Regions from separate parts of the Homo sapiens genome. Here region 2 is linked to region 1. Evidence: fine-mapped expression QTL. A gene starts in region 1. The other region holds a variant in brackets. All regions are shown on one strand. Distances are from middle to middle.

Region 1 (4,248 bases):
TGCTCAGCACCTGATGCATTCAAAATCAGTCCTACACCCCAGTGGGGTTCCAGATGAGGAACAAGTTCCCAGGAGGCAGAGGATGTCTCCCAGACCACACAGCAAGGAAGGGGCCATCCTGCCTGGCCACCATGCCCCCCTGCTCTCCAGGAGGACACAACAGCAGGGTGCTGGTTCCCTTGTTGCTCTGAGTCTCCTGTTAGGCAGAAAGGAGCACTTGGCTGCCACGGCAACTTGCGGGGACTCACTGTGGTGGAGTAAAGATGAAGAGGTAGAGACGCTGCCATCAGAGGCCGTCCAGGACCTCTGCCGACCCGTAGGCTCCACACCTGAGTCTCATAAGTGTCAGGAGGTTTCCTTCAAAGTCCTCAGAAAAAGCAGCTATGCCCAAAACCTGGGGCTTCATTCTAAACTCAGAAAAAATGTTCTACCTGAAGAATTATCTCCTCGGGAGAAACACCAGGACTTGTGGATACAGTGTTAAGGGTGGGGAGCCCTGGTGACCCCTCCACCACGTCCAGTACTGGGCTGCGCGAGGGCAGGGACCTTGGAGCATCGTGAAAAAGGACTTTTTCCACCCACGGCATGTTCAGAGCCACTGTTGATAAAAACTGTACCGCTCACGACAGCCTGCCCCAGCCCAGCCTCAGTGAGTGACACGGTTTGAATCTGTGTCCCCGCCAAATCTCACGCTGAATTATGATCCCCAATGTTGGAGGTGGGGCCTGGCAGGGTGGGTGTGTGGGTCACAGGGACAGATCCCTCGTGGCTTGGTGCTGTCCCGGTGATAGTGAGTTCTCACAAGATCTGGTCATTACAGTGTGTGGCACCTCCCCACCCCCAACTCTCTTGCTGCTTTCGCCATGTGACGTGTAAGCTCCCACTTGGCCTTCCGCCATGACTGGGAGCTTCCAGAGGCCTCCCCAGGAGCAGATGCCGGCACCATGCTACCTGTACAGCCTGCAGAACCGGGAGCCAATTAAATCTCTTTTCTTACAAATTACCCAGTCTCGGTATTCCTTTACAGCAATGCAAGAAGGCCCTAACAGTGAGCCAGGAGGCCACTCACGCCAGGAGCCCATCATCTCTGAGTCAGTCTACACCAGCTCTCCTGCAATATTAATGCTATAGAAGAAACTGCCAGGCAACTCTCAGGAGAGAATTCAGAGCAGGAAAGGTTCTCTGAAGTTCCTGGCGCCTATCCTCTCATTTGCAAATGAAGAAACTGAGGTTTTGCACGGTGGCCACTAACCGGGGACACAATTGGGCCCAAGAAGTGGTCACCACTGCCCTCACTCTGTGTAAATGAGAAAGAGGAAACAGCCATCATCTATGGGACCAACTAGAGTGCAGGCCCGCCTCCACCTGGGGGGCCATCAGGGTGCGGGACCCGCCTCCACCTGGGGGGGCCATCAGGGTGCGGGGCCCGCCTCCATCTAGGGTGCCATCAGGGTGCGGGACCCGCCTCCACCTGGGGGGCCATCAGGGAGCAGGGCCCGCATCCATCTAGGGGACCATTAGGGTTCAGGGCCCGCCTCCACCTGGGGGACCATTAGGGTGCGGGGCCCTCCTCCATTCGGGAGTCAGAGCTCGGGGCCGCCTCCATCTGGGCACCGGGCCCTCCTCCATCTGGAGACCATTGGGGAGCGGGGCCTGCCTCCCTCTGGGGCACCATGGGGCACGGGGCCCGCCTCCATCTGGGGCTCACAACGGGCGCAGGCCCCCTCCCCCGGGGCTGCCTCCCCAAAGCTCTGCCCCGGCACGGCGGTGAGCTCAAGCCTCCTGCAGCGTGGGCGCGTCCGTCCGGCCCGCCCCGCCCCGAGGTGTGGACGCCGCCGCTCCCCTCCGGCCGGCCAGGCGCCCCGCGTGCCCCGGGAGAGCCGCGGAGTCGGCCCGCCAGCCGCAGCTGAGCAGTAGCCCTGACCCAAGGCCCCGCCCGCAACCGCAGGTCACCGCCCCCGCCCGACCCTCGCCCGGCTGCCTCACCGGCCCGCGCTGAGTGCTGACGGTGGTCGCCATGGTGCTGCGGCGGCCCCCGTGGCTCGCCGACCCGACAGTGACGCGCCGGGCGACCTCCTGCGCCCCCGCCGGAGCCTGCGACGGAGACAGTTGTCACCTCGAGGCCGCCGCCGCCACAGTCAGCTGACAGCCGCCGCGCCCCGCCCCCGGCACCGCCCCACTGCGCAGGCGCCGCGCCAGGCACCGCCCCTTCCGGCTCTCGCGCGCACGCGCGCTCCAGGGTAGGGCAGGCGCAGCCTCTCGCCCGGCGCCTGCGCACCTGCTCTCTCCTCGAGCCCTGCAGCCCGGCGAAATGGCTCCCGGCGGGGCCGTTTGCGCATGCCCAGTCATGACGGTTGTCGGCGCGGGCCCTAGCGTGGCGGCGCTGCAGTCTGGGCAGTGGGTTGGTTCCTCCTCGGTCCTCTGTCGAGTGGCGACAGGGCCTAGCCACCTGGCGGGGGTGACCTTCGGACGTGCGACCCGCTCGGAGAAGGGAGGGAACTGTGGCCCGCAACAAAGCAGTGACAGGCCCGACATCCCCTGCAGGGCGATCTTTCCCTCAGCTGCCTGCCGGAGGAAGGGCCTTTCTGTTTCACAGGGCTAAAGATGGGGCGCGGTTCCTCCACGGGGCGGCTGCCGGGTGAACGGAACGGGGATGGAGGCGCTGCCAGAAGAGCCCGAGCTCGAGCCCGCCCTGCCCTCGGCCTCCCCGCCGCGCCGCTCCGCAGGAGCCCCGCTCCTCTCCTGCTCGCTCCGGAGAACCCCAGTCCGGCCTGACCTCGGCCCTCGCGGTCAGGCGCTCCAACCAGAGCGACTCCAGCTCGAACAGCGCTGGGTAAACTGAGGCTGAACCCCGCTGGCTGCATCCCCAGGAGTCGGGCGTTTACGGTCACGGGAACAGGTTAATAAACTTTTACGCAGCAGACCCGGAACTTAGGTCCCGATGTCCGGGTATCTTAAGAACAAGAAGCATTCTTAGTTGAAGTTTCGCTTTAAAGATAATGATACAGATGCTTGCGGAGGACAGGCGTTATGCAAAGATTGGCAATCCTTTGACGAGCCCAGGTAGTACAGCACGTCTCCCCCGTGATGTTTTTTGGCTTTTATCTTACATATAAACAAGCGTACCCAGGTGGACGCCTTCCTCCTCGTGCTTTTGGGAACACCCTGCTCTATGGAGTAGCCATTCTTTTATTCCTTCACTGCCTTAATAAACTTGCTTTCACTTTACTCTGTGGACTGGCCTGGAATTCTTTCTTCCACAAGATCCACGAATCCTCTTTTGGGGTCTGGATCAGGACCCTTTTCCGGTAACACAACCACTCCACTAAAAACTCTTTGTCAGTGATCTCTATATTGTTAGTGGTCAGTTCTCAGTCCTCGTCCTCCGGGAACTACAGCAAAATCGATAGTCATTCTTGCTACACATGCTTTCTTCACTCCCCATCCAGGACACCATGTGCTCTCACTTTCCTCTTATCCCAAAGACCACATCTTTGGGTCTCGGTTACCAGTCTCTCCTTTTAAAACCGGCAGCCTGGCCGCTTGCCTGTTTTGATGGGGTGTAGAGAAAAAGAACGAAAGCCCCTTCCTCAAGTTGTAGCTTAACATCCAGCCAATCCACAGCACAAGACCCAAGAAGCTATTAACCACAAGTTCCTGCTTTGGGGGCCTAGGGACTTCCCCGGGCCCCACATGTGCAGTTAGACTTATACTTCAACTATTGTTACCCCTTCCTCATTTTCACGCTAAAAATCACACCTAGGGGTAGAGATTTAAAATGTGAATGTTGCATGCAATGCATGAAGAAGCATGCAAAGCTACTGAGAAGCACTAGACAAACCCCTCCTATCCATGCCTGGACCAATCCCTTCCCTGTGAAACTAACCCACGTGCCACCCCCTGGCGGCGGGGCCCCCCACCGTTTTCCTTTCATGGTGCTGACTTCCTTGTGCACAAGCTAAATAAAGATTTCTCTTTCTCCTCGCTGCTATGTCTGCTGATCTCTCTTTATTTCTATCCTGGGAGATTACAAGATGCCAGGGCACACTGGTAACACTTTGACTCCTTAACATCGGAGTGCCTTACCTCAGGGCTCAGTCCTTGCACATCTTTTCTATCTACATCCTCAGTGAGCTCATCCAGTTCCATTCCTTTAAATGCCATCCATATGCTGATGATCCTAAAATCTGTATCTCCCACCAGGACCTCCGCTAAACACTAGATTCAGCTCTTGCCTTAATATTATTC
Region 2 (4,248 bases), 33 kb before region 1:
TCAAACCCAGGAGCAGGAGCAGCAGAGGCTGGCAAGGCCTGGGCCCTCAGACACCAGGGGCCTAAACCCAGCTCCCAAACCCACTGCAGCCTCCCCTTGTGAGCTGGCAGACAAGCCTGTCCTTCTGAGTGTGACGACCTCATCCACACCTGACACAGGCGGGGGCGGGGGAGGGTGGGGGTTGTGAACCAGCTAATTCTGGGGACCGCTCGGAGGGGCTCAGCAAGCTGCTTCTACAGTAAGCCACTTCTACAGTAAGCCTTCAAACAGGAAATAAAGCATAAAATGAAGGAAAGAAGAATCTTATTTAATTAAAGGCCTTGCAAAATGTGATTTGTCTATTAAAAAAATAAAGCGCTTGTGAAAAAGAAAACTAAGAGATGGCGGCAAGCGTGGTCATCGGCAAAGGGTTGCTCTCCCTCCAGCGAGGCTGGCCCCCACTGTGTGGGTCCCTCGGGCCCCCACACGGGCTGCTCAAGGGCTGGCAGCAGGGGCCACGTCCTCTCTAGGAGACACCCACAGAGCCACATGTGCACGCGTGTGGCAGTCTCACTGCACCCCAGCAACGCGAAGGCAGAAACCGGTGCTGGTGGCCACACCTGGGCGCCTGGACACCGAAGCCCCCAGCACAGTGAGGCCTCTGAGTGTGGCTTGTGGTCTGTCCTGGGTTAGAGTTGTTAATATCACGGAACATACCATCTAGAACGTTCCAGTCCCGCCTGACACCTTCATTCCCAATGGAGAAGAAATCTACACAGGCGTAAGACCAGGCCATCTGAGACAGGGAATCCCAGGGGCCCCTCCGTCTGAGTGGTCGGCGTCTGCTGAACAAATACCATGTCTTTCTTCTTCAAAGGATCAAAGGCCTTTAGGACCCACAGCTGAAGAAGGCGCCTGCTGCCAGCATGTCCCTCCCCCACGGCCACCACACACTTCAAGTTTACAAAAATAAATATTTATCAACAGTATATTTGACAAAAACCACCCCCAATCGATGGCAGAAAGCAGTATTTTCTAGCTGGCACTGAAACTTAACCTATTTTTTTGAGGGAGAAAAAGACTAAAATGTAAGCACTAACTTCCTCCTTCTGCATCTTCCACAGAAGACCCACTTGTGGGCATTCTCTTTCTGTCCGTTATCAGTGGGTTTACATCCGAAGGCCGGCGGCAAGACACTTGAACCACAAACACCAGACATGCAGGTGTCTCAATGGCATGCAGATTATTTAAAGTGCATCACTTGTGAGAAGCTTCTCAAATTTCTGACTGTCATAACCAGGTGTCACCTAAAATCTGTCCTGTAGGCCAAGATGCTACACGCAGCGCCCAGGCAGTCAGAGGTAAGTGAGCGCCTCCCGCCTCAGAAAGCTTTTACAGGGCCACGCTCGCCAGGCTTTCCTCGCCCACGCTGAACCCACGTCCTGGGCACAGCAGCTCCCAAGCTGTCAGCAGTCGGCTGGCAGTGCCACCACACCCTCTCGGAATCATGCACAGTGCTGCCTCTATCACCTCTCACCCCAGCCTCGCAAGGCCTGTTGAGAAGAGAAGCTCCCTGGGAGGACACCCACGGAGCTGGCACGAGCGCAGCAGGAGAGACGGACGGCAGCCTCCGGCGGGCGAAGGACCCGGCTTCAGATGCCCGCTGGCTGGCAATCAGGCAGAGCCTGGCCAACCGTGCCAGGCCCCCTTCCTCACTCCAGGTGTGGGTTCATTCTGCCTTCAGGCCGGAGTCTGTCACAAGGCTGGCTGGACAGTGGCCAGGTGAGCCAGGCCAGAGGCCGGCCCCACACCATCCACAGGAAGCTGCTCAGCTCACCAGACCCAAGCCCTGGGCAGGGGCCAGGCTCACAGCAAAGCGCGTTAGGGCAAGGGCGTGAGTTTTCGTCTGGGAAGTTCTAAAAAAAACCCACAGTGTGAGGGATTGTGTGTGCCTTAAATCAACAGCTCTATTCCAATTACATCACATCACAAAATGCCATGAATGGAATCGGAAGGCGCTCCACCACCTCCAACACCCTGGCAGAAGCAGCTGCTCTCTACAGCAAGAGCATTTTCCAGAACGGCATGAGAAGGAGAGACGCACGTCCCAGGGACAGGAGAGCGCGCTGAGACCTCCCAGCACGAGATGGGAGGGGAGCCCCCG[C/A]CCCGTCCTGGACCGCCAGGAACCGAAAACCCACATGCACCCAAGAACAGGTGTGGACGGGGCGGCACAGAAGTCCACGGGAGGGGGCGACACGGGTGCTCTTTCACGGGAATCTTGTTGGGACAGCATTCCTTGGGGAGCGCCGGGTCGGCGTGTCCAAAGAGCGGGGGCAAAACGGCATCGAGGCAGAGGCTCTATGGCTCCTCCCCCATCTGCAGCAGGGAGTTGATGGCGGCATCCTTGTTCCCTCGCTGGGCTTCCAGCACGGAGCGGATCACCTCCTGGTCCATGTTGGGGAACATGTCCTGGATGGCTTTCAGGTCCTCCTCGCTACAGCGGGGCTGGGCGTTCACGGCGGCCGGGGGCAGGGCCACGGGCACCATGCCGGGGCTACAGACAGCGGGCATCCCTGGAAGCAAAGATCAAGTTTGGTAAAAACGTCGGAAAGTTCCAGAAGTGCCACACTAGCTCCTGCTGAAGGAAGAAAACAACGCATCCCACCGGCCTCCCTGAGGAAGGGGCCACCTCGGGTCTCAGCAAACACCAGTCCCGCAAGACACCCTGGAAAGGCAAACCCCCAAACAGCAACCCCAGGCACAGCCACGGGGAAGGTGGGCAGGGCCCTCTGTGACGCCTCCTTCACTAACTCATCTTCCTTCCATATAAAAATCAAAGTTTGATCTTTCAAATCTCACCCGAGTCTGTTTTATAACTAGCAGGCTGGGGGTGGTGTTTTGATCCCTTCAGAACTCGTGAATTTGCACTGCACACGCTCGTCTTCACTGACCAGTGGGCTCACAGAGTCCTCTGCATCTGGGGACGGACTACACGGAATGTCACGCCCGCTGATCCAAACACTGCACGGTCTGAGCCTCTTCCTTTATCAGGCATTCTAGAAGATGCTTTTGCAGCTTGGCAAGTGTGTCACTAAACTGTGTGCCGGTGGGGAACAATCACCACAGGCACTGAAGACCTCAGCAAAGCTGCAGCCGATGCCCAGAATGACAACCCCACACACACATACAAACTACACCAAGAAAATGCTCACAAAACTCAAACAAGTGGGGCAGCAGGTGCGGTGTACAGTGGACCCTCAGTGCACTGGGGCCACCGTCCAGGGTTCCTGGCATCTCCACCCCACAGCTACGCAGGCCCCTCGCCCCATGTCTGATGCGGGAGGACACACTGAGATGCAATCTATCGAGCAGGAGACGCACGGCGGTTCAGCCACTGCAGCACACACACCCCTGAAGGCACCGTGTGGCCGGACTTAAGACTCGCCTCCCAGCCTGGTGGCCGCTCCCTAAAACCACGAGCAGCCCTGAGCACAGGCAGCGTGCGCGGGGCTCAGCGACCAGTGAGGCACAGAGCACAGGCAGCGTGCGCGGGGCTCGGCGACCAGCGAGGCACAGAGCTCCTCCTGCAGCAGCAGCTGCAGCAGTGCAAGGGTTCACTGCTCACCCGTTCATTCACCTTTAAAAGCACGAACCATCTCCCAGCTAGGATCACTGGAGCGCTAGAGCCCCAATCTTAGGATAGGACTTTTGTTCCTTTCTACACTTGGAGGATCCTAAAGGCAGCAGAAGCCACTTCAATCCTGGCCTGAACCAACACCAGCAACAAGACCTGCAGGGGTGTAAACGGAGCAGACAGGGCTTGCCACCAAGCCTCCTGCACCTGCTGCAAAGGCCAGGACTCCTCAGCAAGGAAGGCCACCGCTTCCCGGCTCCTTCTAGGCCAGGCCGACTCTTCCTCCACACCCACCCCTGCCTCCTCTGCTTCTCGGCTCTCTCAGGGCCAGGCCCACCTTTCCTCCACACCCACACCTGCCTCTTGTCCTGGCCACTGGACACCTCACCTCACTGGGGAAGCATCATCCCCATGCTCATCAGCCTTTCGGCAATGACGGAAAACGAACCGAACCATGGCCAGGTGGGGACGTGGCCACCCTCACCACCCTTTCTTCTTCCTCAAACAAGACAAAGGCTTGGGCGCTGTCTGTCCTGGAGGGACCCCTGGGATCCCCGTGGCTTTTTGGGCGCCCCGGCTGGCAGGCGGGCAGGAACTTGGCCATCACCTGTCCCTGCCCATACAGCTCCCCACAG

What was found. PIP is the estimated chance that this variant, and not a neighbour inherited with it, causes the effect.
Region 2: its variant is fine-mapped to the expression of TOLLIP in whole blood (INTERVAL, PIP above 0.99).

What each region holds. Positions count from the first base shown.
Region 1 is chr11:1,307,480-1,311,727 of GRCh38, forward strand. It overlaps TOLLIP (toll interacting protein), which reads right to left and starts at 2,153. Exons shown (of 6, transcript NM_019009.4): 1 at 1,987-2,153. The coding sequence starts at 2,019. It overlaps TOLLIP-DT (TOLLIP divergent transcript), which reads left to right and starts at 2,229. Exons shown (of 1, transcript NR_029409.1): 1 at 2,229-3,228. RefSeq lists silencers at 1,609-2,318, 3,844-3,973 and an enhancer at 2,549-3,310.
Region 2 is chr11:1,274,702-1,278,949 of GRCh38, forward strand. TOLLIP (toll interacting protein) reads right to left here. Exons shown (of 6, transcript NM_019009.4): 6 at 1-2,552. The coding sequence ends at 2,338. Among named protein-coding and RNA genes, the nearest start is that of MIR6744, 20 kb to the left of the region's middle. The variant C/A (reference allele first, on the strand shown) is at 2,144.